Linked DNA regions of Homo sapiens: region 1 is linked to region 2. The links come from fine-mapping of genetic effects on gene expression. A gene starts in region 2. The other region holds a variant in brackets. All regions are shown on one strand. Distances are from middle to middle.

Region 1 (16,863 bases), 490 kb before region 2:
TATAGGCCAATATGTTCAGGTCACAATAGACATTTTTGTCTCACTTTTACCTTACATTACATTTTGTCTCACTGCAACCTCTGCCTCCCGGGTTCAAGTGATTCTCCTGCCTCAACCTCCAGAGTAGCTGGGATTACAGGTGCATGCCACCACATCCAGCTGGGGTTTCACCATGTTGGCCAGGCTGGTTTTGAACCCCTGACCTTAAATGATCCGCCCACCTCAGCCTCCCAAAGTGCTGGGATTACAGGCATGAGCCACTGTGCCCGGCTGATCTCATCATCTTTTAACAGTACTTCCTCAATTTCTTTTCAGAGACAACAAAGGCTTTCATTTTAACCCAGTCACATTAACACAAATGCTGGGTCCTCCAGCTCTGAGAAAGCCTGGAGAAGATTCTTGCACATTCTTGCTGCTGCAAATAGGTCAAGTTCAGACGCCATTCACCAATTCATCTCTGGGAACTTATATCTTAAGCCTATAAGCTAACCATTTAAAGTTAAAAATTTGTTTCCAACAAATAGATATGTTTTTCACTAAAATCACCTATGATGCCAGAGTTCTGACTGATTGAGTAAGACGTAATCTGACCTTCTAAGCCCCAGTGTTCTTATTGTTCTCTTTTCTTTGGCCATATCTTGTTTTCAATCATCCTCTTCCATGACTACGACCACATCTTACAATGGAAGCTAACAAATGGGTTTCTGGTAGTAGGTGTCTGTCTCTGTTCTAATTCACCCTGCATGCTGCTTTTTAACACACTACTTTTTCAGCAGTCTCCTGGCTCAAGAACTCACAATGAGTCACCACTGCTTACTATATACAGTCAAGTCTCCTTTGCCAGGCCTTCAGGGACATCTATAATCTGGCTCTATCATACCTCAGCAGTCTTACGTGGCACCATGCACAACACCTGACATGTTCTTTCCAACTCAGAGGCTCCTGCCCTTACTTTCCCAACATAGGCAAGATCTCCCTGCCTTCTTCCTCTGTCTTTCTTAAGCTGAAAGGCCCAGCCCACCTTGACCTCTACTTTTCTGAATGCCTTTTGCTCCACACTATTTGACACCTGATGCTATTTTGTCTTAGATTGTTTCATTTCTTCTAACAAAAGACTTAATTTTTCTGTTTTGTAGACCCAACCAGAATATGAGCTCCTGGAAAGCAGGCTTTTAGGATTTTACATCTACCACCATACCCTGCCCCTAAACACATAGCTGGGCTGCAATAAGGGATCACTAGATCCTTGCTGCTTGATTCCCTCAAAAATATTTCATTTGGTGAATCTGGGACACAGATTTATATAGTTTATACTTGGAAATGGCTGGGGGAATGTAGGTTCAATTATCATTTAAGTTTGTTACATTTTACTAATTGCCTTTATATACTTCCTCCGCCAAAGCCAGTCTGCTGTAATTATTCCTGGGCATTCGTTTGGGAACTTCACCAAAATACCAAAGGAAAATAAAATCTAACCACATTCAAGTGATGTAATTGCTACTGGTCTTTGTATCAAACACAGATAAAGGTTAGGTTTTTGTCTTTCCTAATGTTAACTTTAATCAGTGTTCAGATGAACTGAACCTAAGCAAATGTGGGTCTATAAATAGGCCTGGAACTCTATATACCACATGATCTAGTTGGAGGCATGGTTCATGGATGTAATAAAAATTGTGTGCCTTTTGACATTTGTTGACTAATCTGATAAAACCATCTTACTGTTTTTTTTTTTTTTTCTTAGAGATGGGGTCTGGCTCTGTCACCCAGGCTGGAGTGCAGTGGCATGAATATGGCTCACTGGGCTTTACCTCCTGGGCTCAAGCAATCCTCCTGCCTCAGTCCCTCCCGGGACTACAGGCGTGTGCCACCATGCCTGGCTAATTTTTTTTTTTTTGTATTTTCTCTAGAGATGGGGTTTCGCTATGTTGCCCAGACTGGTCTCTAACTCCTGAGCTCAGGCAATCGGCCCGCTGTGGCCTCCCAAAGTGCTGTGATTACAGGCATGAGCCACTGCGCCTAGCCCCATCTTAAAATTTTCACAGCACCTTATAGGCTATAAAATATTTCATATCTGTTATTTTATTTGATCTGTACAACAAAGCTATGAAGCATGTATTATCTCTTCTAGGGAAGATGAAACAAACTCAGTCAGAGAAGTTAAGAAACCTACCAAAGCCTCAAGGCTAGGAAGTGGTAGAAACAAGACATGAATCCAAGGTGCAGAGAAGTTGGGCAGGGAAGGGAGAGTACAGCACAGTGGGGGCCCTGGGGACTCACCTGAACATGAGCTGTGTGATAGGTACTGTCAGATGAGACAAATATGAGTGATTATCCTTACCCTAAAGGTACATAAATGTGTGAGAATATAGAAAGCCTGGGCAACTGTTAAGTCCAAAATGAGGTCTTCAGACCTATGGTCCTTCCATTATTCCACACTGCCTCCCACAGTTCTGTTGCTAGGGCCCAGCTCCCACTTACCACATTCTAGCTCTTCTCCTTTTAGCTTTCAGAGGCCAGCTTTTGGCATCGTTACAAAGTAGACTTTGATAAAGTTTCACTGCTCTCCGGAGAAATAGTAAGAGAATGTTAGCTGGAAATGAATATTGAGAGAGGTTGCTACGATCTCCTTTAGAGAGAACTGAATCAGGTTAGTGGCATAAATCGATGAGGGCAGGAGTTTTGTATTTTTGTCTATTGCCAAATGTGCAGTTGGTATGGAACAACAAACCATAACGTTTGAAAAAGAGAGATCAGAGGAAGAGTGGAGGGAGAGGTGAAGGAGGAGAAGAGGGAGAAAGAACAAGAGGGAAGCCTTAGGTTTCCTTAGGTGTATGTGAAGCCTTAGGTGTATGTGAAAGCCTTAGGTGTATGTGAAATTTATACTAAGATTTTCCCTCTTACCAGGGTGTGGTGTAGCTCAGTTTCGTGGAGGCCAGTGGTTTATGTGTATGTGAAATGTATGTGAAAGCCTTAGGTGTATGTGAAATGTATACTAAGATTTTCCCTCTTACCAGGGTGTGGTGTAGTTCAGTTTAGTGGAGGCCAGTGATTTATGTGTATGTGAAAGCCTTAGGTGTATGTGAAATTTATACTAAGATTTTCCCTCTTACCAGGATGTGGTGTAGCTCAGTTTAGTGGAGGCCAGTGGTTTATGTGTATGTGAAATGTATGTGAAAGCCTTAGGTGTATGTGAAATTTATACTAAGATTTTCCCTTTTACCAGGGTGTGGTGTAGCTCAGTTTAGTTGAGGCCAGTGGTTTTTCAATATTTGATATTCTGGAGGACAAGACAGGAACTGACTGACTGAATGACTGACTGAAAATTTGTTAAGTCCTCACAATATAGGGAACTAACCAGATGACACAGACATCTGAAGGGCTGGATGGTAGGCAAGAACTTGAGAGACCTGAACAAAACAGTAGCTGAATGACAGTGTTTCCCAGAGGATAAACCCAGAGATTTAAAAGGATGAGGGGTTGGTGGTTTAAGGACTCATACTCTCTCTCAGGAGCTACATTTACTTTAAACTTCTCTGAGTTAGAGTGCCAGAGAGACCTCTGGAGTTGGCAGCTTCTTCTAGGCCAGGCAAAATCCTTATTACCATGAAAAAGAGTTCTGAAATGCTTTCAAACTTGTAAGAGAGTTCCCTTTGAGCTCAGGTTTGGAAATTTGGCAACTAACATTAAATGCTAGTGAGCAAGTTAGAATATCTTAATAAAATATACTTCACATTCAGAGTTGACCAAATCAAGAGGCAGGAGGTTCAGGGTCTTAGGTCCCTGCCATGATTTCAAACTTCCAAAAGAGCCAGTAGACCAGAAAGCCCTAAGTCCTCCCTACTACAGACCCTTCCTTCATATAAGGCCTTCTGTATGGGGCCCTTACTTCCTGCTACAACACATTCCAACATTTCTGTATGGTTTTCAAGACTTGCCCCAAACAATTCTTGCTGCCCTGGTTCTTAGGCTTGGCCTCATTACTCTACAGACCATGTTCTTCCTCCCACCCTCTTTATGTGCTTTCACTGCTAATTCTGGAATACCCTTCGCTCTGCATTTCACTTAGTAACATTATACTCATTTGTCAAGGTCTACCTCCTCCTTAAAGCCTTTCCTGATTATTAGAGACTTAGCTAATTTCCTTCCTTCTGAAGAGTAAATGCTATCTGGCCTGGGTAAGGGAGGCAGTGTGGTGGAGAATTTAAGATAGCAGTACAGGACTAGAAGAAGATTCAAGTTCTAGGCCTTCCAGTAATTAGAGTAAATGAGAGGCAGTTATCTAAGCTTCAAGCATTTGTTTGTTTTCTATTCTATTTCATCTTTATTATTCATTGCTTGCCTGCTATATGTAAGTTGTTGATGAATCCTATCTAGATCTTGCCATTGAGGATCTTAGAGTCTAATAAATGATATATATATAAATAATTAGAATAAAAATAGGAAAAATGGTTAAAAACCACGAGAGCATCATGGAAAGTTCCTTAAGAGGTCAGAGGAAGTTAAAATTAATCTCTCTGTAGAAAATAGCATCTGAGCTTGGCCTCGGAGCATGAATGAAAATATGTAAGAATAAAATAATAAATAAGAAAGTGTTAGAAAAGTATAGAATGTGATACAAATGCAAGGGCTAGTATTTTAAATGGGGTGAAATGTAGGAGCTGTTTTAAGAAAAGATAAGGTAGGGAAAGGAGTGATTCCATCCCTCAATTCTAGGCAAAACCTGCCAAATACTTTATTTCAAAAGAAGCAATGAGTTCCCTTGATGGCAGGGCCACCATTTAATCTCTGTCATTTTCTGCTAGCACATTAAAGAGCCTACATTACATTGTATATGAAGTTTTTAGGGCCACCTGGAGCAGAGGGCTCAGAAAAAGTCTCAGATAGGGCTCAATAAAGTCTGGCAGCAGAGGGTCAATTTGAGGAGAACCATTGACATGGCTCCAACGTAAAGGGTAAAAGAACATACCAGGTAGACAAATGAGCCAGCTCTAGCTTACATGCAGAATAAAGGCAGCTGCCTTAGGCCCCATTCATGAGTTTGGGGAGAGCTACAGCAGCTCTGGGGGTATAAAGCAGACAAAGAGGCTTACAGCAGCTAAAATGCTATTAACAAATACTCCATTACCAAAGTTCCATCAGGAGGTTTATTGTCCATCTGTAAGATATGCCCACTTTCTCAAGCTGTTCTCCAGTCTACTTGGTGCCATTACCACCTGAGTTCAGGCAGTACAGGCTACCCTTGGCAAATGCTTTCAGTAGTTTTAGGTATGAGTATGTGCACTTCCTCAGGATGTTCCCCTCCACATCCTAGCATACAATGCCTGAGCTTCCTTTCTATAGTCATTTCCGTCATCCTTAGAGGGCAAATTTTTATAAAATGATTGGGCTAGGCTGGGCATCTAGTGCAGTATTTAGCTCAAAATCGTATTTCAATAGTATTTAGGTTCACATAAATTCACTTCAATTCAATTCAGACTAAAATTCACTGTTGGTATTAGTTACCACGATTATAGTATAATTAACCATAGTCTTTCATTGGGACTTGCTCAGGGTTTTCTAGGAAGCACCTGCCTATGCCTTCTGCAAAGGCTCAATTCTGCACTTTCCTTAAGAGGATCACATCCTTGCCAAAACTCCACAGTGCGTAGTGAAACAATTTGGCTTATGCAAAAATCCCAAGAAATATATAGCTATGATAAGAAAGTACAATGTGAAACTGATGAGGGACAGAATGGTAGTGGTGACGAAATTATCTCTAATCATAGAGAAAAATAAAATCCTCAGTGGGATTGTTTACAGCTTCCCCATTCATTGCCCTGGAGAGTTGTCTTAGATACTTCCATTCTTACTGCACTTAATCACACCCCAGAATAGCTCTAGCTCTCTTTACTCATATGTATAATAATCCCTCACATTTAATGTACTGCTTTATACTGTGTGTATGTATATGCAATATTTTATATATATATATATATACACACATACAATAATTTAATACCTATCTGTGAAAGAAAGAGTTAACCCAGCAGTCTTGAGTTGCTCAAATCGTATACATTTTTAGAAGGGCCCACTTGTGTGACTGGTCCTTGGCCAGCTCCTGGGAACTGAGGTCTTAGAATGTTCTCTATTCTAGTAACTGGTAAGGGCATTGTGTATGCCCTTTCAACCATGCTGTAACAGCCTGTCTAGGTATCTTGTGCAAAAAATATGATTTATGGTGAATGCATGCTTTCTTTCCAAGGGATATGGAGTTTCAGTCACTAGTTACCCCAATAAAAATCCTGGAGTTTCAGGCTCAAGTACGCTTCCCCGGCAGAAAACACTTTGCATATGTTTCTGAACTTCATTGTTGGAGGATTAAGCACAACCTGTGTGACTCTATTGGGAGAAGACTCTTGGAAGCTTGCACCTGGTATCCTCCGGTCTCTGACTGATGTACGTTTTCCCATTATTGATTCTGCTTTCTGTCCTTTTGATATAATAAACTGTAGCCTGATTGTAACAATTTATGAGTCCTGTGAGTCCTTCTAGCAAATCAGTGAACCTGGGGATAGTATTGGGGGCCACCAGTACATTGCTTTACAATGTCATTATGAGGATTACCACCTCCATTTTACATATAAAGAAACTGAGATCAAATGGCTTGAGCTGGAAGTAGAATTCAGTTCTTTCCAAATCCCATGTTCTTTCTACTATACTGAACTGCTCCCTATATAATCTTTTTTTGTGGTTAAGGGGTAGATAAAATGGTATCAGAGGTACCTTTTAGCTCTGACAGACATTAACTGTTTATGTCTAAAGTCCATATGAAAAAAAGGAGGATGTAAAACTAAAAAAAAAATTTTTTTTCAAGTTATCTCCACTCATTCCCCCTTTGCATAGTTCACTTCTATCTTAGGGTGTCAAGGGCTCTACTGAAACTCTACAAGAATGCATAGGCAAGGAAAATTACACTTTAAAGAATGATTAGTTCTATTATGCATGCCTTCCCCCAGGCATTCTGCTTAGTCTCTGACAAATAAAAACTGTACACATGGATTTGAGAAAGATCCTGGTTGGGTTTGTTCAGTGGCATTATTAGGGTAAAGATGAAAGGCAAAGTTTATAGCCTTGTCTGACCTGGCCTTGCCAACATAACCTTGCTGTGCTCCAAACGCCTAAAGGGCTGGCTTTGTCACTCAACACTCTGCATTCATCTGTGTAGTCTGTCTGACTAAGCCATATGTCCTGAGAATGGTGGAGGAAGAGACTGTGCTTAGATAAGGTAATAGACAAAACTTATGAAATAAATCTGCTTTCATGAAATTTGGTGTTTATGAAATATATGTTTTATATTTTATAGAGAACACTAAAGCAAATGAATGAGTTAGTCTACAGCCTTGCTTTTATCCCCAACACTAAAATCTCATTCGGTGGGTTTTAAGGCCCTGGGATGAGCTATTTTTTGTCATGGTGGGCCAGATTTTCCACTGAGCGAGGGAAATGGGCAGGCACCTGCCAGTGTAGCAATCAATCTTATCCTTGGCAATGGCTTCCTAGAGGGTTTTTCTGCTCAGGGTTTGGAATCAGCAAGTCCAGTTGTACTATAATGTGTGGGAGTTTTCATAGATTTATATCACACAGAAAAGAAGACTGATTGTCTATGCAGAGAATGTTGGGTTGGTTGTACAGTGTAGTGTGGAGGGTGGGTATACAAGTTGTCTTTTCAAGAGCTGGAAAAAACCCTTGATAAAGTGCTTAAAAAAGAGATAAACACACCAAGATTGGTTTTTATCATACATGGAAGGGAATATCTAAAGAGAAAGGAAGAAGAGGCAGATCAATTACCTACAGAGATACTTTCTGGCACAGACTAGCACACAGCATATCACATTAATAAAACTGAGCTCTGCAAGAAAAAAGGTAGACCATTCTCCCTCATTAAAAAGTTCCAGTTTTAAGCAACTATTACTATTCTGAATCCAGCACATTCCCCCACACACAATCACCACACACCTAGCCAAATGAGCACATGACATTCCTAAACTAAGGACACTCTTTAACCTAGCCTCCACTTACAAACTCAAAAAGGCACATATTGACTAAATGATTCTGACAGGAGAAGGGGAAAATATGTAGAATTTAGAGGCCAAAGAGAAGTAGATAACTGAAAACAAGGTTGTACACACACACACACACACACACGTGAGCACATGTGCATGTGCGTGTGTGCACACACACACACACACCCCTATCACTAGTCCCTCCCATGCCCTAAATTACATCAACTGTTTTCAGTTAGGCTAAGCCCCTTCCACTGGAGAAAAATAAAGATTGAAGCTATGGGCCGGGCACAGTGGCTCACGCCTGTAATCCCAGCATTTTGGGAGGCTGAGGCGGGCAGATCACGAGGTCAGGAGATCGAGACCATCCTGGCTAACATGGTGAAACCCTGTCTCTACCAAAAATACAAAAAAAAAAAAAAAAAAAAGAAAAAAAATTAGCCAGGCGTGGTGGTGGGTGCCTGTAGTCCCAGCTACTCGGGAGGCTGAGGCAGGAGAATGGCGTGAACCCAGGAGGCGGAGGTTGTGGTGAGCCAAGATCACGCCACTGTACTCCAGTCTGGGCGACAGAGCGAGATTCCATCTCAAAAGAAAAAAGAAAAAAAAAAAAGATTGAAGCTATGGGAATGACAGTGTCCCTTCTCTACTTGATCAATACCTTCTTTGGCTACTGTTAAGATGCACTCTCC[G/A]TGACCAGTAATAATAAAGCAAGACCTACATAGCTAATTAGTTGTTACTTTTTGGTCTGGGTTTCAGTTTCCCCAATTGTAAAATGAAGGGTAGAAACTGGACCTCCCACCTCAGGTCATATCCTATGATTCCCTGACTCTATTACAAACCATTGCATGTGTCACATGACAGATGCCAAGGATGCCTTCAAGCCTTACTTCTTACATACAGGCCCACACATACACATGGGGCCTTTCTTTTTGACTCTGACAGGCAGGGGAGCCCAGAGGGTTGAGACTTTCTAAATGCAGATAAATAAGCTGAAAAGATTACAATGAGTAGATTCTGTTTTCCCCAGCTTACCTCTTTGGGCGAGAGAGCTGTGCTGAGATGCAAGGGCAAGGTTGAAAAAAACCTGACAACAGTTATGGTGACAATGTTTTGATGATTATTGGTTTCTGCACTGCTGGGAAGAGAGAGTACACTCCTCAAACCTTGAAAGTACACTCCTCAAACCTTCCTTTAAGCTTTGAACCAGAGCAACTGCAGATGATTTCTAGGGTAAAGGTAAAGCCACCTCTATAACTGAGGTTTGCTGTCCCCTGGTACATACCAAAGGATCTGGATCCAGAGCACCAGAGTCAATCATGAGTACCAGTTGGAACCCAAAATAGTAACATCTACTGAATGTGCCAGTATTTACTTGGTAAATTGAAATAATGTGGATTTTATGAGGGTGAGGAATTACCCTATAAAATCGTTCAATCTGGAATCAAGTATTTTCTGTAACTGCTACACCAAAAATTAAACAAGTAGATAATAATAAATTACCCACCCACTAAGTTCTGAGGAAAATACTGCATCACTTCAGAGACTAAATATCTACCTCTCCTGATCAAGGTAAACAGATTGTATTTTTAAGTCAGATTTATTAATGTATGATGCCACCTAATATCAATAGTATTTCATATTCTATTTGGTTTGATCATTAATAATCATTCATATTTGTATGATGTTAAACTTATAAAGTCCTTCAATATATTTCACATTATGTATCTTAGGTTGATCTCTGACAACAGCCCTGTGAGCATGAATGGGCAGGTATTATCCTTATTTTAAAGATGATGAATATGAGGCCAAGAGAGTTGGGACAATAGATGGCTGGCATTAGAACCCAGGAATCAAGGTTCTATGCTTCCTTTACTTTGCAATGAGGTCAGCAAGGGGCACAAACATGACATGATGTTGCTTACCCCATTTCAGGTCAAAACTCATTATCTAACCTAAAGTTTACCATTACACAAATTTAGCTGTTGGGATACTTGCCAACATGAAACCCAAGCCTAACTTCCTGAAGCAGTATAAAGGTACATGCCAGGAGTCATAAATCAGGTATTTTATTTCCTGAGTGTGGCTAGAATATCCCTTTGCCAAGAAAAGGGAAGGGGGTAGAGTGATATAATTTTCAGTCTCCCACAATCTCCCAGACTTCCAGCTCAGAGTGCCAGCAAGTACCCCGCCATCTAATGGTCATTTGCAGAAACTTCATCTTCCAGGTAGGAGAAGAAGACATCCCATTGATATTCTTTTATTTATTTATTTATTTATTTATTTTTATTTTTTATTATACTTTTAAGTTTTAGGGTACATGTGCACATTGTGCAGGTTAGTTACATATGTATACATATGCCATGCTGGTGCACTGCACCCACTAACTCATCATCTAGCATTAGGTATATCTCCCAATGCTATCCCTCCCCCTCCCCCCACCCCACCACAGTCCCCAGTGTGATATTCCCCTTCCTGTGTCCATGTGTTCTCATTGTTCAATTCCCACCTATGAGTGAGAATATGCGGTGTTTGGTTTTTTGTTCTTGTGATAGTTTACTGAGAATGATGTTTTCCAATTTCATCCATGTCCCTACAAAGGACATGAACTCATCATTTTTTATGGCTGCATAGTATTCCATGGTGTATATGTGCCACATTTTCTTAATCCAGTCTATCATTGTTGGACATTTGGGTTGGTTCCAAGTCTTTGCTATTGTGAATAATGCTGCAATAAACATATGTGTGCATGTGTCTTTATAGCAGCATGATTTATAGTCCTTTGGGTATATATCCAGTAATGGGATGGCTGGGTCAAATGGTATTTCCAGTTCTAGATCCCTGAGGAATTGCCACACTGACTTCCACAATGGTTGAACTAGTTTACAGTCCCACCAACAGTATAAAACTGTTCCTATTTCTCCACATCCTCTCCAGCACCTGTTGTTTCCTGACTTTTTAATGATTGCCATTCTAACTGGTGTGAGATGGTATCTCATTGTGGTTTTGATTTACATTTCTCTGATGGCCAGTGATGATGAGCATTTTTTCATGTGTTTTTTGGCTGCATAAATGTCTTCTTTTGAGAAGTGTCTGTTCATGTCCTTCGCCCACTTTTTGATGGGGTTGTTTGTTTTTTCCTTGTAAATTTGTTTGAGTTCATTGTAGATTCTGGATATTAGCCCTTTGTCAGATGAGTAGGTTGCGAAAATTTTCTCCCATTTTGTGGGTTGCCTGTTCACTCTGATGGTAGTTTCTTTTGCTGTGCAGAAGCTCTTTAGTTGAATTAGATCCCATTTGTCAATTTTGGCTTTTGTTGCCATTGCTTTTGGTGTTTTAGACATGAAGTCCTTGCCCATGCCTGTGTCCTGAATGGTAATGCCTAGGTTTTCTTCTAGGGTTTTTATGGTTTTAGGTCTAACGTTTAACTCTTTAATCCATCTTGAATTGATTTTTGTATAAGGTGTAAGGAAGGGATCCAGTTTCAGCTTTCTACATATGGCTAGTCAGTTTTCCCAGCACCATTTATTAAATAGGGAATCCTTTCCCCATTGCTTGTTTTTCTCAGGTTTGTCAAAGATCAGATAGTTGTAGATATGCGGCGTTATTTCTGAGGGCTCTGTTCTGTTCCATTGATCTATATCTCTGTTTTGGTAACAGTACCATGATGTTTTGGTTACTGTAGCCTTGTAGTACAGTTTGAAGTCAGGTAGTGTGATGCCTCCAGCTTTGTTCTTTTGGCTTAGGATTGACTTGGCGATGCGGGCTCTTTTTTGGTTCCATATGAACTTTAAAGTAGTTTTTTCCAATTCTGTGAAGAAAGTCATTGGTAGCTTGATGGGGATGGCATTGAATCTGTAAATTACCTTGGGCAGTATGGCCATTTTCACAATACTGATTCTTCCTACCCATGAGCATGGAATGTTCTTCCATTTGTTTGTATCCTCTTTTATTTCATTGAGCAGTAGTTTGTAGTTCTCCTTGAAGAGGTCCTTCACATCCCTTGTAAGTTGGATTCCTAGGTATTTTATTCTCTTTGAAGCAATTGCGAATGGGAGTTCACTCCTGATTTGGCTCTCTGTTTGTCTGTTGTTGGTGTATAAGAATGCTTGTGATTTTTGTACATTGATTTTGTATCCTGAGACTTTGCTGAAGTTGCTTATCAGCTTAAGGAGATTTTGGGCTGAGACAATGGGGTTTTCTAGATATACAATCATGTCGTCTGCAAACAGGGACAATTTGAGTTCCTCTTTTCCTAATTGAATACCCTTTATCTCCTTCTCCTGCCTAATTGCCCTGGCCAGAACTTCCAACACTATGTTGAATAGGAGTGGTGAGAGACGGCATCCCTGTCTTGTGCCAGTTTTCAAAGGGAATGCTTCCAGTTTTTGCCCATTCAGTATGATATTGGCTGTGGGTTTGTCATAGATAGCTCTTATTATTTTGAAATACGTCCCATCAATACCTAATTTATTGAGAGTTTTTAGCGTGAATGGTTGTTGAATTTTGTCAAAGGCTTTTTCTGCATCTATTGAGATAATCATGTGGTTTTTGTCTTTGGCTCTGTTTATGTGCTGGATTACATTTATTGATTTGTGTATATTGAACCAGCCTTGCATCCCAGGGATGAAGCCCACTTGATCATGCTGGATAAGCTTTTTGATGTGCTGCTGGATTCGGTTTGCCAGTATTTTATTGAGGATTTTTGCATCAATGTTCATCAAGGATAGTGGTCTAAAATTCTCTTTTTTTGTTGTGTCTCTGCCTGGCTTTGGTATCAGAATGATGCTGGCCTCATAAAATGAGTTAGGGAGGATTCCCTCTTTTTCTATTGATTGGAATAGTTTCAGAAGGAATGGTACCAGCTAATCCTTGTACCTCTGGTAGAATTCGGCTGTGAATCCATCTGGTCCTGGACTCTTTTTGGTTGGTAAGCTATTGATTATTGCCACAATTTCAGATCCTGTTATTGGTCTATTCAGAGATTCAACTTCTTCCTGGTTTAGTCTTGGGAGAGTGTATGTGACGAGGAATTTATCCATTTCTTCTAGATTTTCTAGTTTATTTGCATAGAGGTGTTTTTAGTATTCTCTGATGGTAGTTTGTATTTCTGTGGGATCAGTGGTGATATCCCCTTTATCATTTTTTATTGCGTCTATTAGATTCTTCTTTTTTTCTTTATTAGTCTTGATAGCGGTCTATCAATTTTGTTGATCCTTTCAAAAAACCAGCTCCTGGATTCACTGATTTTTTTGAAGGGTTGTTTGTGTCTCTATTTCCTTCAGTTCTGCTCTGATCTTAGTTATTTCTTGCCTTCTGCTAGCTTTTGAATGTGTTTGCTCTTGCTTTTCTAGTTCTTTTAATTGTGATGTTAGGGTGTCAATTTTGGATCTTTCCTGCTTTCTCTTGTGGGCATTTAGTGCTATAAATTTCCCCCTACACACTGCTTTGAATGCGTCCCAGAGATTCTGGTATGTTGTGTCTTTGTTCTCATTGGTTTCAAAGAACATCTTTATTTCTGCCTTCATTTCGTTATGTACCCAGTAGTCATTCAGGAGCAGGTTGTTCAGTTTCCATGCAGTTGAGCGGTTTTGAGTGAGATTCTTAATCCTGAGTTCTAGTTTGATTGCACTGTGGTCTGAGAGATAGTTTGTTATAATTTCTGTTCTTTTACATTTGCTGAGGAGAGCTTTACTTCCAAGTATGTGGTCAATTTTGGAATAGGTGTGGCGTGGTGCTGAAAAAAATGTATATTCTGTTGATTTGGGGTGGAGAGTTCTGTAGATGTCTATTAGGTCTGCTTGGTGCACAGCTGAGTTCAATTCCTGGGTATCCTTGTTGACTTTCTGTCTCGTTGATCTGTCTAATGTTGACAGTGGGGTGTTAAAGTCTCCCATTATTAATGTGTGGGAGTCTAAGTCTCTTTGTAGGTCACTCAGGACTTGCTTTATGAATCTGGGTGCTCCTGTATTGGGTGCATATATATTTAGGATAGTTAGCTCTTCTTGTTGAATTGATCCCTTTACCATTATGTAATGGCCTTCTTTGTCTCTTTTGATCTTTGTTGGTTTAAAGTCTGTTTTATCAGAGACTAGGATTGCAACCCCTGCCTTTTTTTGTTTTCCATTTGCTTGGTAGATCTTCCTCCATCCTTTTATTTTGAGCCTATGTGTGTCTCTGCACGTGAGATGGGTTTCCTGAATACAGTACACTGATGGGTCTTGACTCTTTATCCAATTTGCCAGTCTGTGTCTTTTAATTGGAGCATTTAGTCCATTTACGTTTAAAGTTAATATTGTTATGTGTGAATTTGATCCTGTCATTATGATGTTAGCTGGTTATTTTGCTCGTTAGTTGATGCAGTTTCTTCCTAGTCTTGATGGTCTTTACATTTTGGCATGATTTTGCAGCGGCTGGTTCCGGTTGTTCCTTTCCATGTTTAGTGCTTCCTTCAGGAGCTCTTTTAGGGCAGGCCTGGTGGTGACAAAATCTCTCAGCATTTGCTTGTCTGTAAAGTATTTAATTTCTCCTTCACTTATGAAGCTTAGTTTGGCTGGATATGAAATTCTGGGTTGAAAATTCTTTTCTTTAAGCATGTTGAATATTGGCCCCCACTCTCTTCTGGCTTGTAGGGTTTCTGCCGAGAGATCCGCTGTTAGTCTGATGGGCTTCCCTTTGAGGGTAACCCGACCTTTCTCTCTGGCTGCCCTTAACATTTTTTCCTTCATTTCAACTTTGGTGAATCTGACAATTATGTGTCTTGGAGTTGCTCTTCTCGAGGAGTATCTCTGGGGTGTTCTCTGTATTTCCTGAATCTGAAGGTTGGACTGCCTTGCTAGATTGGGGAAGTTCTCCTGGAGAATATCCTGCAGAGTGTTTTCCAACTTGGTTCCATTCTCCCCGTCACTTTCAGGTACACCAATCAGACGTAGATTTGGTCTTTTCACATAGTCCCATATTTCTTGGAGGCTTTGCTTATTTCTTTTTATTCTTTTTTCTCTAAACTTCCCTTCTCGCTTCATTTCATTCATTTCATCTTCCATTGCTGATACCCTTTCTTCCAGTTGATCGCATCGGCTCCTGAGGCTTCTGCATTCTTCACGTAGTTCTCGAGCCTTGGTTTTCAGCTCCATCAGCTCCTTTAAGCACTTCTCTGTATTGGTTATTCTAGTTATACATTCTTCTAAATTTTTTTCAAAGTTTTCAACTTCTTTGCCTTTGGTTTGAATGTCCTCCCGTAGCTCAGAGTAATTTGATCGTCTGAAGCCTTCTTCTCTCAGCTCGTCAAAGTCATTCTCCACCCAGCTTTGTTTCGTTGCTGGTGAGGAACTGCGTTCCTTTGGAGGAGGAGAGGCGCTCTGCATTTTAGAGTTTCCAGTTTTTCTGTTCTGTTTTTTCCCCATCTTTGTGGTTTTATCTACTTTTGGTCTTTGATGATGGTGATGTACAGATGGGTTTTTGGTTTGGATGTCCTTTCTGTTTATTAGTTTTCCTTCTAACAGACAGTACCCTCAGCTGCAGGTCTGTTGGAATACCCTGCCGTGTGAGGTGTCAGTCTGCCCCTGCTGGGGGGTGCCTCCCAGTTAGGCTGCTCGGGGGTCAGGGGTCAGGGACCCACTTGAGGAGGCAGTCTGCCCGTTCTCAGATCTCCAGCTGCGTGCTGGGAGAACCACTGCTCTCTTCAAAGCTGTCAGACAGGGACATTTAAGTCTGCAGAGGTTACTGCTGTCTTTTTGTTTGTCTGTGCCCTGCCCCCAGAGGTGGAGCCTACAGAGGCAGGCAGGCCTCCTTGAGCTGTGGTGGGCTCCACCCAGTTCGAGCTTCCCGGCTGCTTTGTTTACCTTATCAAGCCTGGGCAATGGCGAGCGCCCCTCCCCCAGCCTCGCTGCTGCCTTGCAGTTTGATCTCGGACTGCTGTGCTAGCAATCAGCGAGACTCTGTGGGCATAGGACCCTCCAAGCCAGGTGCGGGATATAATCTCGTGGTGCGCCTTTTTTTAAGCCCGTCGGAAAAGCGCCATATTCGGGTGGGAGTGGCCCGATTTTCCAGGTGCCGTCCGTCACCCCTTTCTTTGACTCGGAAAGGGAACTCCCTGACCCCTTGCGCTTCCCAAGTGAGGCAATGCCTCGCCCTGCTTTGGCTCATGCACAGTGCGCGCACCCACTGACCTACGCCCACTGTCTGGCACTCCCTAGTGAGATGAACCTGGTACCTCAGATGGAAATGCAGAAATCACCGTCTTCTGTGTTGCTCACGCTGGGAGCTGTAGACTGGAGCTGTTCCTATTCGGCCATCTTGGCTCCTCCCATCCCATTGATATTCTATTTTCCGTCCACATGGAATATGGTGTGAGAGTGATCACTATTTCAGTCCAGCTCAGGAACAGATATTCTACTGCACCATACATACATACTCAACCCAGACTTCTTGGAAAGGAATTGTGTTAAAAGTTAGACCTACCATATGATACAGCAAATACACTTCTAGGTATTTACCCAAGTGAATTGAAAATTTACATCCACACAAAAACCTGCTTGTGGATGTCTCTAGCAACTTTATTCCTAATTTCTCAAAGCTAAAAACAATCAAGATGTCTTTCAACAAGAGAATGGATAAACAAGTATTCTTACAATGGAATACTATTCAGTGTTTAAAAGGAACTACTTACATAAAAGGAGCTATTGATTCACACAACATGAATGAGTCTTAAATGCATTTTGCTAGGAGACAGAAGCCATACCCAAAGACTACATATTGTATTATTCCATTCATATGACACTCTGGAAAATATAAAACTATAGGGATGGGATACTTATCAGTAGTT
Region 2 (16,863 bases):
CTTTTCTTTAAGAATGTTGAATATCGGCCCCCACTCTCTTCTGGCTTGTAGAGTTTCTGCCAAGAGATCAGCTGGTAGTCTGATGGGCTTCCCTTTGTGGGTAACCCGACCTTTCTCTCTGGCTGCCCTTAACATTTTTTCCTTCATTTCAACTTTGGTGAATCTGACAATTATGTGTCTTGGAGTTGCTCTTCTCGAGGAGTATCTTCGTGGCATTCTCTGTATTTTCTGAATTTGAATGTTGGCCTGCCTTGCTAGATTGGGGAAGTTCTCCTGGAGAATATCCTGCAGAGTGTTTTCCAACTTGGTTCCATTCTCCCCATCACTTTGAGGTACACCAATCAGACATATATTTGTTCTTTTCACATAGTCCCATATTTCTTGGAGGCTTTGTTCATTTCTTTTTATTCTTTTTTCTCTAAACTTCTCTTCTCACTTCATTTCATTCATTTGATCTTCCATCACTTATACCCTTTCTTCAAGTTGATCGAATTGGCTACTGAGGCTTGTGCCTTTGTCACGTAGTTCTTGTGCTGTGGTTTTCAGCTCTGTCAGGTCCTTTAAGGACTTCTCTGCATTTGTTATTCTAGTTATCCATTTGTCTAATCTTTTTTCAATGTTTTTAACTTCTTTGCCATGGGTTCAAACTTCCTCCTTTAGCCCGGAGTAGTTTGATCATCTGAAGCCTTCTTCTCTAAACTCTTCAAAGTCATTCTCTGTCCAGCTTTGTTCTGTTGCTGGTGAGGAGCTGTGTTCCTTTGGAGGAGGCGAGGCACTCTGATTTTTAGATTTTTCAGTTTTTCTGCTGTTTTTCCCCCATCTTTGTGGTTTTATCTACCTTTGGTCTTTGATGATGGTGACATACAGATGGGGTTTTGGTGTGGATGTCCTTTCTTTTTGTTAGGGATGTGAAGGACCTCTTCAAGGAGAACTTCAAACCACTGCTCAATGAAATAAAAGAAGATACAAACAAATGGAAGAACATTCCATGCTCATGGGTAGGAAGAATCAATATTGTGAAAATGGCCATACTGCCCAAGGTAATTTAGAGATTCAATGCCATCCCCATCAAGCTACCAATGACTTTCTTCACAGAATTGGAAAAAACTACTTTAAAGTTCATATGGAACCAAAAAAGAGCCCACATTGCCAAGTCAATCCTAATCCAAAACAACAAAGCTGGAGGCATCATGCTACCAGACCTCAAAGTATACTACAAGGCTACAGTAACCAAAACAGCATGGTTCTGGTACCAAAACAGAGATATAGACCAATGGAACAGAACAGAGCCCTCAGAAATAATGCCGCATATCTACAACCATCTGATCTTTGACAAATCTGACAAAAACTACCCATGGGGAAAGGATTCCCTATTTAATACATGGTGCTGGGAAAACTGGCTAGCCATATGTAGAAAGCTGAAACTGGATCCCTTCCTTACACCTTATAATAAAATTAATTCGAGATGGATTAAAGATTTAAATGTTAGACCTAAAACCATAAAAACCCTGGAAGAAAACCTAGGCAATACCATTCAGGACATAGGCATTGGCAAGTACTTCATGTCTAAAACACCAAAAGCAATGATAATAAAAGACAAAATTGACAGTTGGGATCTAATTAAACTAAAGAGCTTCTGCACAGCAAAAGAAACTACCATCAGAGTGAACAGGCAACCTACAGAATGAGAGAAAATGTTTGCAATCTACTCATCTGACAAAGGGCTAATATCCAGAATCTACAAATAACCGAAACACATTTAGAATTAAAAAAACAACCCCATCAAAAAGTGGGTGAAGAATATGAACAGACACTTCTCAAAAGAAGACATTTATGCAGCCAACAGACACATGAAAAAATGCTCATCATCCCTAGCCATCAGAGAAATGCAAATCAAAGCCACAGTGAGATACCATCTCACACCAGTTAGAATGGCGATCATTAAAAAGTCAGGAAATAACAGGTTCTGGAGAGGATGTGGAGAAATAGGAACACTTTTACACTGTTGGTGGGACTGTAAACTGGTTCAATCATTGTGGAAGACAGTATGGCGATTCGTCAAGGATCTAGAACTAGATATACCATTTGACCCAGCCATCCAATTACTGGGTATATACCCAAAGGATTATAAATCATGCTGCTATAAAGACACATGCGCATGTATGTTTATTGAGGCACTATTCACAATAACAAAGCCTTGGAACCAACCGAAATGTCCATCAGTGATAGATTGGATTAAGAAAATGTTGCACATATTCTATGCAGCCATAAAAAAGGATGAGCTCATGACCTTTGTAGGGACACGGATGAAGCTGGAAACCATCATTCTCAGCAAACTATCACAAGGACACAAAACCAAACATCATATGTTGTCACTCATAGGTGGGAATTGAACAATGAGAACACTTGGACATGGGAAGGGGAATATCACAGTTCAAGGCCTGTCGTGGGGTGTGTGAAGGTGGGAGGGATAGCATTAGGAGATATACCTAATGTAAATGACGAGTTAATGGGTGCAGCACACCAATATGGTACATGTATACATACGTAACAAACCTGCACGTTGTGCACATGTACCCTAGAACTTAAAGTATAAAAAAAAGAAAAATAACTCCAGACTTAGAAGCTCACTCAAAACTGCACAACTACATGGAAACTGAACAACCTCCTCCTGAATGACTACTGGGTAAATAACGAAATTAAGGTAGGAATAAAGATTTTCTTTGAAACCAATGAGAACAAAGACACAACATAGCAGAATCTTTGGGACACATTTAGAGCATTGTTTAGAGGGAAATTTATAGCACTAAATGCCCACAAGAGAAAGCAGGAAAGATCCAAAATCAACATGCTAACATCACAATTAAAAGAACTGGAGAAGAAAGTGCAAACAAATTTAAATGCTAGCAGAAGACAAGAAATAACTAAGATCAGAGCAATACTGAAGGAGATAGAGACACAAAAAACCCTCAAAAAAAATCAATGAATCCAGGAGCTGGTTTTTCGAAAAGATCAACAAATTAGACCGCTAGCCAGACTAATAAAGAAGAAAAGAGAGAAGAATAAAATAGACACAATAAAAAATGATAAAGGGTATATCACAACTGGTCCCACAGAAATACAAATGACCATCAGTGAAAACTATAAACACCTCTACCTAAATAATCTAGAAAATCTAGAAGAAATGAATAAATTCCTGGACAGATACACCTTCCCAAGTCTAACCCAGGAAGAAGTCTAATCCCTGAATATAGCAATAGCAAATTATGAAATTGAGGCAGTAATTAATAGCCTACCAACAAAAAAAAGTCCAGGACCAGACAGATTCACAGCCAAAATCTACCAGAGGTACAAGGAGGAGCTTGTACCATTCCGTTTGAAACTATTCCAAACAATAGAAAAAGAGGAATTCCTCCCTAATTCATTATATGATGCCAGCATCATCCTGGTACCACAACCTGGCAGAGACACAACAAAAACAGAAAATTTCAGGCCAATACCCCTGATGAACATCAAGGTGAAAATCCTCAATAAAATACTAGCAAACCAAATCCAGCAGCACATCAAAAAGCTTGTCTGTCACGATCAAGTTGGCTTCATCCCTGGGATGCAAGGCTGGTTCAACATATGCAAATCAATAAATGTAACTCATCAGATAAACAGAACCAATGACAAAAACCACATGATTATCTCAACAGATGCAGGGAAGGCCTTTGATAAAATTCAACAGCCCTTCATGCTAAAAACTCTCAATAAACTAGGTATTGATGGAATGTATGTCAATATAATAAGAGCTATTTATGACAAACCCACAACCAATATCATACTGAATGGGCAAATGCTGGAAGCATTCCCTTTGAAAACCAGCACAAGACAAGGATGGCCTCTCTCACCACTCCTATTCAACATAGTATTGGAAGTTCTGGCCAGGGCAATCAGGCAAGAGAAAGAAATAAAGGGTATTCAAATAGGAACAGAGGAAGTCAAATTGTCTCCGTCTGCAGATGACATGTTTGTACATTTAGAAAACCCCATTATCTCAGCCCAAAATCTCCTTAAGCTGATAAGCAACTTCAGCAAAGTCTCAGGATACAAAATCACTGTGCAACAATCACTAGCATTCCTATACACCAATAACAGACAGAGAACCAAATAATGAGTGAACTCCTATTCACAATTGCTACAAAGAGAATAAAATACCTAGGAATAAAACTTACAAGGGGTGTGAAGGACCTCTTCAAGGCGAACTAGAAACCACTGCTCAAGGAAATAAGAGAGAACACGAACAAATGGAAAAACATTCCATGCTTATGGATAGGAAGAACCAATATCGTGAAAATGGCCATACTGCCCAAATGAATTTATAGATTCAATGCTATTCCCATCAAGCTACCACTGACTTTCTTCACAGAACTGGAAAATCTACTTTACATTTCATATGGAACCAAAAAAGAGCCCACATTGCCAAGAAAATCCTAAGCAAAAAGAACAATACTGGAGACATCATGCTACCTGACTTCAAACTCTACTACCAGGCTACAGTAGCCAAAACAGCATGGTACTGGTACCAAAACAGATATACAGTCCAATGGAACAGAACAGAGGCCTCAGAAATAACACCATACATCTACAACCATCTGATTTTTGACAAATCTGACAAAAACAAGCAATGGGAAAATGATTTCCTATTTAATAAATGGTGTTGGGAAAACAGGCTAGCCATATGCAGAAAACTGAAACTGGACCCCTTTCTAACACTTTATACAAAAAGTAACTCAAGATGGATTAAAGACTTAAACACAAGACCTAAAATCATAAAAACCCTAAAAGAAAACCTAGGCAATACCATTCAGGACATAGGCATGGTCAAAGACTTCATGACTAAAACAGCAAAAGCAATGGCAGCAAAAGCCAAAATGGACAAATGAGATCTAATTATACAACAGAGCTTCTGCACAGCAAAAGAAACTATCATAAGGGTGAAAAGGCAACCTACAGAATGGGAGAAAATTTTTGCAATCTACCCATCTGACAAAGGGCTAATATCCAGAATCTATAAAAACGTAAATAAATTTACAAGAAAAAAACAAACAGCCCCATCAAAAAGTGGGTGAAGGATATGAACAGACACTTCTCCAAAGAAAACATTTATGCAGCCAACGAACATATGAAAAAAAGCTCATCATCACTGGTCATTAGAGAAATTCAAATTGAAACCACAATAACATACCATCGCACGCCAATTAGAATGGTGATCATTAAAAAGTCAGGAAACAACGGATGCTGGAGAGGATGTGGAGAAATAGCAACGCTTTTACACTGTTGGTCGGAGTGTAAATTAGTTCAACCATTGTGGAAGATAGTGTGGGGATTCCTTAAGGATCTAGAACCAGAAATACCATTTGACCCAGCAATTCCATTACTGGGTATATACCCAAAGGATTATAAATCATTCTACTATAAAGACACAGGCACACATGTGTTTATTGTATCACTATTCACAATAGCAAAGACTTGGAACCAACCCAAGTGCCCATCAATTTTAGACTGGATAAAGAAAATGTGGCACATAGATACCATGGATTACCATGCAGCTATAAAAACAGGATGAGTTCATGTCTTTTGCAGGGACATGGATGAAGCTGGGAACCATCATTCTCAGCAAACTAACACAAGAACAGAAAACCAAACACCTCATATTCTCACTCATAAGTGTGAGTTGAACAATGAGAACACATAGATACACGGAGGGGAACATCACATGCTGTGGTCTTTCAGGGTTGGGATGCTAGGGGAGGGATAGCATTAGGAAAACTACGTAATGTAGGCGATGGGTTGATGGGTGCAGAAAACCTCCATGGCACATGTATACCTATGTAACAAATCTGGACGTTTTGCACAAATACCCCAGAACTTAAAGTATAATAAGGAAAAAATAAACACTTTATGTGAAAAAAAAATCCTTAGGAATATATCTAAACAAGAAGGTGAAAGACCTCTACAAGGAAAATTCAAAACACTTCTGAAAGTAATCATAGACGACACAAACAAATGGAAACATAACCCATGTCATGGACGAGTAGAATCAATATTGTGAACAGGATCATAATGCCAAAAGCAATCTACACATTCAATGCAATTCTCATCAAAATACTAATATCATTCTTCACAGAATTAGAAAAAACAATTCTAAAATTCATATTGAAGCAAAATAGCCCATATAGCCAAAAAGAATAAATCTGGAGGCATCATATTACCTGGTTTCAAACTATGCTATAAGGCAATAGTTACGAATACAGCATGGTACTGGTATTAAAATATACCCACAGACCAATGGAACAAAACACAAAATCAGAAATAAATCCAAATACAGCCAACTGATCTTCGACAAAGCAAACAAAAATATAAAGTGGGGAGAGGACACCCTTTTCAACTAATGGTGCTGGAATAATTGGCTAACCACATGTAGGAGAATGAAACTGGATCCTCATCTCTCACCTCATACAAAAATCAACTCAAGATGGATTAAGGACTGAAATCTAAGACCTGAAACTATAAAAATTCTAGAAGATAACTTTGGAAAAACCCTTATAGACATTGGCTTAGCCAAAGATTTCATGACCAGGAACACAAAAGCAAATGCAATAAAAACAAAGATAAATAGCTGGGACTTAATTAAACTAAAGAGCTTTTGCACAGCAAAAGGAACAGTCAGCAGAGTAAACAGACAACCCATACAGTGGGAGAAAATCTTCACAATCTATACATCTGACAAAGGACTAATATCCAGGATGTACGAGGAACTCAAATCAGAAAGACAAAAACAAACAATCCCATCAAAAAGTGGGCTAAGGACATGAATAGACAATTCTCAAAAGAAGATATACAAATGGCCAAGAAATGTATTAAAAAATGCTCAACATCACTAATTATCAGAGAGATGCAAATTAAAACCACAATTTAATACCACCTTACTCTTGCAAGAATGGCCATAATCAAAGAAATTAAAAAATAGTAGATGTTGGCATGGATGTGGCAAACAGGGAACACTGCTACACTGCTGGTAGGAATGTCAACTAATGGAAACAGTGTGGAGATTCCTTAAAGAACTAAAAGTAGAACTACCATTTCATCCAGCAATCCCATTACTGGGTATCTACCCAGAGGAAAAGAAGTCATTATACAGAAAAGATAGTTGCACACGCATGTTTATAGCAGCATAATTCGCAATTGCAAAAACGTGGAACCAACCCAAATGTCCATCAATCAATGAGTGGATAAAGAAGCTGTGAGATATATATATATATACACATATATATGTGTATATATATGTGTATATATACATATATATGTATATATATATATACACATATATATATGTGTATATATATATATGTATATATATATGGAATACTACTCAGCCATAAAAAGGAATGAATTAATGGCTTTTGCAGCGACCTGGATGAGATTGGAGACTAATATTCTAAGTGAAGTAACTCAGGAATGGAAAACCAAACATTGTATGTTCTCACTCATAAGTGGGAGCTTAGCTATGATGGATACAAAGGCATATGAATGATACAATGAACTTTGGGGTCTTGGAGGAAAAGGGTGGGAAGGGCTTGAGAGATAAAAGACTACAAATAGGGTACAGTGTATACTGCTCGAGTGATGGATGCACCAAAATCTCTCAAATCACCACTAAAGAACTTACTCATCTAACCAAACAGCACCTGTTCCCCAATAACCTATGGAAATAAAAAAAAAATTATAAAAAAATCTGTATAGGCATGTTAAAAAAAGGAAGGACAGAAATACCATTCAACTCAGCAATCCCATTACTGGGTATATACCCAAAGGAACATAAATTATTGTTTTATTAAAGACACATGCACACATATGTTAACTCCAGCACTATTTACAATAACAAAGACATGGAATCAACCTAACTACCCATTAATGATAGAATGGATAAAGAAAATGTGGTACATATACACCATGGAATACTATGCAACCATAAAAAATAATGAGATCATGTCCTTTGCAGGGACATGGATGGAGCTGGAGCCTATTATCCTTAGCAAACTAACACAAGAACAGAAAACCAAATGCTGCATGTTCTCACTTATAAGTGGGAGCTAAATGATGAGAACACATGGACACATAGTGGGGAACAACACACACTGGAGCCTACTGCAGAGTGCATGGTGTGAGAAGGGAGAGGATCAGGAAAGACAACTAGTGGGTACTAGGCTTAATACCTGGGCGATGAAATAATCTTTACAACAAGCCCCCATGACAGAAGTTAACCTATGTAACAAACCTGCACATATATCCCTGAACTTAAAAGTTAAAAAAAAAAAAAGATTCTTGTATCCCATCTCGGATCTACAGAATCACAATCTCAAAAATGAGCCGTAAGAACCTGCATTTTAACAAGCTCTACAATTATTGTGGTACATACTGATGTTTGAAAAGTACTGCCCTAGACACTCTTACCTCAGGCCGTTATAGTGAGTCCATACACTTAAAAATAAGCGTCTTTCCAAGTACTTTAAAGATTCAAAATGATAGTGGATCTGAAATGCCGCCTGAGTCCCCATGACAACGTGTACACTGTGGGGCCCAACCAATAAAGATAAGAAAAGCTTTGGCGGTCAAGCATACTTGGGAAGCTGCAGTTTCTAGAACAGTCTAGTAGAGGACAGCCTCTTCAGCAGCCTGCTAGGCATTTTTTTACTTCTTCCTTCTGTTATGCAGACAAGCTAACTGAAGATGCGGTTACTGAGATATAATTTCTCTGCTAGGTCACAAAGTCTGAAAACATGGGCCTTACGTGTGTAACTGTGTATCATCACCTGCCACCCCCAGTTTTTCCTGGCTCTACTAATCACCCAAAGTTCTGAATGCAGAAGCCCCAGGGGCCCCCGGAAGATCCTTCAAGCTGGCATCCTTGGCCTCGCTGCGGGGGCTTAGCTACCTGTGGGAACCCACGTAGCAAGGGTGACTCAAAGGGTTAACAAGCAGTGGCGCCGCAGAGTGGCGGGGAGTGCAGCCAATAGGGTGTCTAGGCAGGCAGTACGTCTGGTGTGGGCGGGAGTGAGCCAAAGTGTGCTAAAGGAAACCAACAGCGGCCTAGGGGTGAAAGGACAGCCAGGGTTAGATGTTCTGAGGAGGCGGGAGCAACCGAGAGAGCACGTGAGCATCTGTCCTTTCTACCCGTTCCTCTTTATCTTTAGTGTTCAGTAGCAGCGGGGATAGCCCGGGGCCCGGTGTATGGCCACGGAGTTACAGTGTCCGGACTCCATGCCCTGTCACAACCAGCAAGTAAACTCTGCCTCAACCCCAAGTCCCGAGCAGCTGCGACCTGGCGATCTGATCCTGGACCACGCAGGGGGAAACAGAGCCTCCAGGGCCAAGGTGATTCTCCTCACGGGGTACGCCCATTCTAGCCTGCCGGCCGAGCTGGACTCTGGGGCCTGCGGCGGCTCCAGCCTCAACTCAGAGGGCAACAGTGGTAGTGGTGACAGTAGCAGCTATGACGCACCAGCTGGCAACTCCTTCCTAGAGGACTGCGAACTCTCCCGGCAGATCGGGGCGCAGCTTAAGCTGCTGCCTATGAATGATCAGATACGGGAGCTACAGACCATCATCCGTGACAAGTAAGCCAAGAGCGGAAGGGGAAAGGGAAGTGGAGGGTCTTGCAGGCTGTGGGCGGGGATTGGAAGTAAAAGGGCTAAGAGACAGTGTTCTTGGCCTTGGCAAACTTTGGAGATTGGGGTAAGACCTTTTATTTGGTGTGTGTGTGTGTGTGTGTGTGTGTGTGTGTGTGTGTGTGTCGTGTAACTCGAACGCCAACCTTCTCTTTCCAAGTTCCGGTGTCTAACATCACTTTGGGTGGGGAGGAAGACTTTAGGTAGCCTCTGGGCTCTTTGTCTCTCCCAGGAAAGACAACTCCTTGGCCATTCCAGGCAGGTAAACTCCCCTATACTATGTGGGCAGTGCTTGTCCACATGGTAAACCTATAACCCAGAAATGGTTACTATCCAAGGTTATGCACTACCACCAATCACCTCAGGTTCATAAATAGAAATAAAGCAATTTCAAGGAAATTCTATTCAGGCCCTGACCCTTTAGTATTTGCTACTGCAAACAAGGTCTTTTAGTCTTGGAGTTCAGGTTTACTTGATCACATGAAAGCTTATCGTCCAACTCTTATCATTTTTCACTGTAAACTCACAGAACATAGTTAATGGATCAAAGGGAGCCTAAAGGAGCCTTTGGCCCTTCCTAATCCCACAAACCAATGTAGCCAGAACTTCATGTTAAAATGTAATTTTGAAATTTCTAAACCTACGTTGTAAATGGGTTTTCTCCAGGGAAATATGTACCATGATGAACTACAGCTATTTTCTTTATTGGCAGCACTTTAAATGAGCAGCATATCAAAACACCCCTTTTTTAGTGGCAGGGGTTGGGGGGACATGCCTTGATCTTTTAAAAATGGCTACTGAATGACAGATGCCACTCCCTAAACCAGACTCTAGAAACCTTGTCTTACACTATTGTAATAATACTGTTTCTCTGCTTGCAGTTTTTCCTCTCTTCCACATGCACCCATACATTACTGTACAATCAATCTTCATAACATACATCTTTGATTCAGTAATTGCCCTACTCAGCAACCTTCTTTGGCTTCTCAGAGCCTACCAAATAAAGTCCAGGATCCTTAGCTTGATTGATATTTTTGAGACAGGATCTTTCTCTGTCACCCAGGCTGGAGTGCAGTGGTGAGATCACAGCTTACTGTACCCTCATACTTCTGGGCTCAAGTAATCCTCCTGCCTTAGCCTCCTGAGTAGCTGGGACTACAGGGACATGGCACTGCCCCCCGGCTAATTTTTTATTTTTTTGTAGAGATGGAGGTCTTGCTATATTGTCCACGATGGTCTTGAACTCCTGGCCTCAAGCAATCCTCGTGCCTCGGCCTCCTAAAATGTTGGGATTACAGGTGTGAGCCACCATGCCTGGCCCCCTTAGCTTGGGATGAAGGCCCTTCTTCATAGTTCCTAGGAACAATTCTGAAACATATCTGTTTCTGCTCTCATCTGGAATTCCCTGTGTCTCCTTTATGTACGTTCAGGATACTTATTCTTCAGGGTGAAACACAGCATTAAATAATTGTCCACCTCTGCCAAGAAGCTTCCCTTTAATCATTATTCCTGGCTTATCTTCCCTGGTCTTTTTAATGCAAGATTCACCTTCTTTTTCGTATATTGTTATTTTTGTATAGATCTTATCCTGCCTATGACATCTTGAAGGCAGAAATCTTTTACATTTTTGAATGCCGGCCATGCCTTGCAAATAATAGATGCTCAATTACTAGAGTTTTTTTGTAGCTCTTAAAATTATATTTATGAAACTATACTATTTTACTCTTTTTAATGAATCAATATTGAAAACTACTGTGGTTATGTTATCTAATAGACAAAATAGTGATCCTAAAAAATAGGAGGCATAGGTTTGCTGTAGTTGTGGTAGGGTAGGGGCAGCCAAAATAAATCTTACATATACAACAAAGAAAAATAGATGATGATTCTTGTTTCTATAGAGCAGAAGTTACTACGCTTGGGTCTTCGACTCCCTCGTACCAGTAGATGGGTTCAGGGCTTTAACAAACCCTCATAAATTAACTGGGAAATTTTACTCATATGAAGATTTTTAATAGTTGTTTTTAAATAACATCTTTATTGAGATATAATTCACAGACCATACAGTTCAAGAATTTAAAGTGTATAATTCAGTGGTTTTAAGTATGTTCACAGCTGTGCATTCATCACCACAGTTTTAGAACATTTGTCATCACCCCAGCAAGAAACCTCATGCCCATTAAACAGTCACTCCCCATTTTCACCCAACCCACCCAAAGCCCTAGACAATCATTAATCTACTTTCTATTTCTAATGGTTTGCCCATTCTGCACATTACATATAAAAAATGTCTATTCTGGACATTTCATTATCATACAATATGTGGTCATTTTGTGACTCATTTCATTTAGCATGTTTTCAAGGTTCATCCGTGTGGGATCTTTCCTTTTTATGATTAAATGATACTCCATTATATGAATATACCACAATTTGTTTATCCATCAGTTGGTGAACATTTGGGTGGTTTACCACTCTTTGGCTATTATGAATAATGCTGCTATGAACATTCACATATGTGCCTTTTTTTTTAGAGGGTGAGGATTCCTTAGTTTTTTAGATTTCACAAAGTGTCATGATAATGTAAAGGTGAAGTGCCCTTGCTATAGCGCTTGGAGAGGGAATGGCATTTAGCATTCACATATGACAAAATAATACCTGATTATATGTCATTAGTCAGAAAAACCTGGGTTATGTAGTAAACCTGGGTGTAAGTGGAATCCTTTTTTTTTTTTCCTCTAAGTTTGGAAGGAGACAGCAGGATCCAGAGAAGTGATTTAGGCAATATGTTTAGCATCTCTGTGCTTCACCTTTATCATTTGTAAAATGAAGATGTTGGTAAATATCACATGGAGCCCCTGGGAGGCTAAAACAAGATACTGTTCATGAATATTCATTATGAACTGTGAAGAGCTGTTCACATTTAAGGAATTTCAAGCCTCATGTTTGGATTTGTGCATGCTTCTAATTGCATTCATAAGTGCTGTCTTCTTGATTTGTCAGAAGACAGTAAAATGAATTTAACTCTATGTGGAATTCACTTTTTTATCTTGAAAATGAATACTGGGATATTGTAGATAATTTTTATCTTGTTTTGATATAGTATGGAAAGACCCACCACAATTTTTAGTAATGTATTGCTGCTTATTTAGGCTGGGGACATTGTTTTTAGTTTTGTTTTTGTTAACCAAATTAGAGGCTTTATATTCCCTTTATCTTTAAAAAATTGTCATCCTCTCTCACAAGACCTGTTTTAGCCCCTCTAGGAGGCTGGTTTAAGGTGCCTATGGTAAGAGGAGCTATATTTACATAGGTCTAGTTATGGAAGGTGCCATCAGTTATCATACCCTGTTCTCTTTGGGGCTTATTCTCTTCTCTATTTTGATGTGACAGCATAAATGTGCACTGTGGAACTGTCCGATAATAGAAGCCACTGGAGTACATATTTTTTCTTTTATTGTTTCTGGTCCTTAGCATCTATATAGTGAAGGGATTGCTTTGTGAATTGACTTTGGTATGGGGAAATCGGGATTGAGCCAGCAGGACTGCATGTTGTTGTATATATGTGAAACAGGCAAGATTGAGAACATTGTCTGTATTGATTTAAAATGTCTTTTTAGATTTTGAAATGTGCAATATTTGAAACATAATATGTTGGTTGTATTATTGAATTTCAAGGAAATAAATTTCTCTCTTTGAAAGTGCAGTAAACACTGAGTAGATTATTTGCTCAGCCATACGTATGTGGGTTGCTGGTGAACTTGGGATAAGAAAAAATTTCTTCATTTATGTCGTTTTGTTGTTGTTGCAATGGATTAAACCACACATCCTTCTCTTCTGCCTCCTTTATATACTAAACTCAGCAAAATCTGAGTAATGTGCTTTTCCTGTGAATATAGTTCATGACCTCATATTTAAAGGCAATGCAGTGTATTTAAAAGATCATCCTCCCTGTCCAGTTTTTTGTTTTTTATTTTTTGTTTCCTGAAACATTAAAGCTGTTGTGTGAGCTGTTGAATGCTTCCTGTGTATTTGTCCTAGGTGGGGCTTTGGCATGGCCTCAGCAAGCTGCTTGTTTAAAAGTTTAGCAATGTTAGAGTATGTCAGTATGTGACATAGGACAAAAAAAGGAGCACATTCAGCCTTGTGACTCTCTTTAGTCACCTGGAGGGGAGAAAATTATCCTTAGGGTGAATGAACATCCTGTGTAACCCTAATGTGAGTGCAATCTAATGTGATTTGAGTTATGTGACTAAGTAATGTATTGTCCTTAACCAAAGCTGTGTGCATCAGAATTGCCTGTGGAGTCTCTCTCTCTTTTTTTAAAATACAAGTTCCTGACTCCCATCCTTAGCAGTTGTTTGTATAGTCTTGAGTAAAACCTGACCACAGGTAATTGTGCTGTGTTTAGACTGGGCCATTGCCCCTGGGAGAATGGCCAGTCTCCCTTGTGTGCTGATTTGCTAGCCTGCTGATTCGGGCTATAGATATGGTGATCCAGGGATTCCACACACTAAACAGAACTAGGCTAGAGAGCCTGACCTAGCATTACATCAACACTGGAGGAATCTCCCAACATTTCCTTCCAGCTTGCACAAAACCAAAATGCCCACCGCAGAAAAAAACTGTGACGTGCAAATTGTTTAAAACATGGACATATTTTCGGTTTTTGTGTGTTTCCCGTGTGAGTCCTCTGACTTTTAGAGCAGGAAGGAGGAAGTCACCACTAAGCTATACGGACCTCTGTTATAACATTTACTGGGCATATCCTGGTATACCTAACTAGACTGGACTCCAAGGAGGCAGAAAGGGGGTCTGACCTGGCACAGTCCCTGACACAAAGGATAATTAATGTAGCAATTGTAATCAGATAAAATGATAGTTTCCCTTGTTTTTCTGTCCCATTTTTTTGCAATAATTTCAACATTTGTTTTATTTTTTTAAAGCTTTCAGGTTTCACTTATTTATTTTTTTCCATAAGTTATTGGGGTACAGGTGGTATTTGATTACATGAGTAAGTTCTTTAGTGGTGATTTATGAGATTTTGGTGCACCCATCACCCAAGCAGTATACACTGCATCATATTTGTAGTCTTTTATCCCTTGACCCCCTCCCACCCTTTCCTCCCAAGTTGCTAAAGTCCATTATATTATTCTTATATCTTTGCATCCTCATAGCTTAGCTGCCACATACTAGTGAGAACATATGATGTTTAGTTTTCCATTCATGAGTTACATCACTTAGAATAGTAATCTCTAATCTCATCCAGGTCACTGCAAATGCTGTTAATTCATTTTTTTAATGGCTGACTAGTATTCCATCATATATATATATTTGATATGTATTCCATCATATATATATATTTGTTGGCCATTTGTATATCTTCTTTTGAGAATTGTCTATTCATGTCCTTAGCCCACTTTTTGATGGGATTGTTTGTTTTTTTTTTTCTTGCTGATTTGTTTGAGTTCCTCGTAGATTCTGGATATTAGTCCTTTGTCAGATGTATAGATTGTGAAGATTTTCTCCCACTATATGGGTTGTCTGTTTACTCTGCTGACTGTTTCTTTTGCTGTGCAAAAGCTCTTTAGTTTAATTAAGTCCCAGCTATTTATCTTTGTTTTTATTGCATTTGCTTTTGTGTTCCTGGTCATGAAATCTTTGGCTAAGCCAATGTATGTAAGCCAAAGTTATCTTCTAGAATTTTTATAGTTTCAGGTCTTAGATTTCAGCCCTTAATCCATCTTGAGTTGATTTTTGTATAAGGTGAGAGATGAGGATCCAGTTTCATTCTCCTACATGTGGTTAGCCAATTATCCCAGCAACATTAGTTGAAAAGGGTGTCCTTTCCCCACTTCATATTTTTGTTTGCTTTGTCGAAGATCAGTTGGCTATAAGTATTTGGGTTTATTTCTGAGTTCTCTGTTCTGTTCCATTGGTCTTTGTGCCTATTTTTGTACCAGTGCCATGCTGTTTTGATGACTGTGGCCTTATAGTATAGTTTGAAATCAGGTAGTGTGACACTTCCAGGTTTGTTCTTTCTGCTTAGTCTTGCTTTGGCTGTGTGGGGTCTTTTGTGGTTCCATATGAATTTTAGAATTGTTTTTTCTAATTCTGTGAAGAATGATGGTGGTATTTTGATGGGAATTGCATTGAATTTGTAGATTGCTTTTGGCAGTATGATCATTTTCACAATATTGACTCTACCCATCCATGAGCATGGGATGTGTTTCCATTCATTTGTGTCATCTATTATTTCTTTCAGCAGTGTTTTGAAGTTTTACTTGTAGAGGTCTTTCAACTCCTTAGGTAAATTCCTAAGGATTTTATTTTTTTTGGCAGCTATTGTAGAGGGTTGAGTTCTTGATTTGATTCTCAGCTTGGGTACTGTTTGTGTATAGAAGAGCTACTGATTTGTGTACATTAATCTTGTATCCAGAAACTGCTGAATTCTTTTATCAGTTCTAGGAGCTTTCTGGAGGAGCCTTTAGGGTTTTCAAGGTAAAAGATCATATCCTCAGCAAACAGTGACAGTCTGACTTCCACTTTATCAATTTGGATGCCCCTTATTTCTTTCTCTTGTCTGATTGCTCTGGCTAGGACCTCCAGTACTATGTTGAAGAGGAATGGTGAGGGTGGCATCCTTGTCTTGTTCCAGTTCTTAGAGTGAATGCTTTGAACTTTTCCCCATTTAGTATTATGTTGTCTGTGGGTTTGTCATAGATGGCTTTTATTACATTAAGTTGTGTCCTTTCTATGCTGATTTTGCTGAGAGTTTTAATCATGGAGGTATGCTGCATTTTGTTGAATGCTTTTTCTGCATCTATTGAGATGATCCTGTGATGTTTGTTTTTAATTCTGTTTATGTGGTGTGTCACATTTATTGACTTGCATACATTAAACCATCCCTGCATCCCTGATATGAAACCCACTTGATCATGGTGGATTATCTTTTTGATGTGCTGTTGGAATTGGTTAGCTAGTATTTTGTTAAGGATTTTAGCATCTATGTTCATCAAGGATATCAGTCTGTAGTTTTCTTTTTTGGTCATATCCTTCCCTGGTTTTGCTATCAGGGTGATGCTGGCTTCATAGAATGAATTAGGGAGCATTCCCTCTTTCTCTGTCTTGTGGAATAGTGTCAAAAGGAATGTTT

Which allele goes with the higher level. Positions count from the first base shown, and alleles are read on the strand shown. Sizes are in standard deviations (SD) of each study's normalised expression.
As copies of G replace A in region 1, the expression in prefrontal cortex of the gene that starts at base 9,107 in region 2 goes down (moderate effect, 0.71 SD a copy in GTEx).

Evidence for each region. PIP is the estimated chance that this variant, and not a neighbour inherited with it, causes the effect.
Region 1: its variant is the best candidate, but not a certain one, in a credible set for the expression of UPRT in prefrontal cortex (GTEx, PIP 0.59).

Annotation. Positions count from the first base shown.
Region 1 is chrX:74,778,655-74,795,517 of GRCh38, forward strand. The region is part of intron 1 of NEXMIF (neurite extension and migration factor); the gene reads right to left. Among named protein-coding and RNA genes, the nearest start is that of NEXMIF, 140 kb to the right of the region's middle. RefSeq lists an enhancer at 828-907. The variant G/A (reference allele first, on the strand shown) is at 8,732.
Region 2 is chrX:75,264,979-75,281,841 of GRCh38, forward strand. UPRT (uracil phosphoribosyltransferase homolog) reads left to right here and starts at 9,107. Exons shown (of 7, transcript NM_145052.4): 1 at 9,107-9,662. The coding sequence starts at 9,277. LOC124905200 (a long non-coding RNA gene) reads right to left here and starts at 9,058. Exons shown (of 4, transcript XR_007068269.1): 1 at 8,500-9,058. RefSeq lists enhancers at 8,998-9,047, 9,068-9,117, 9,278-9,487.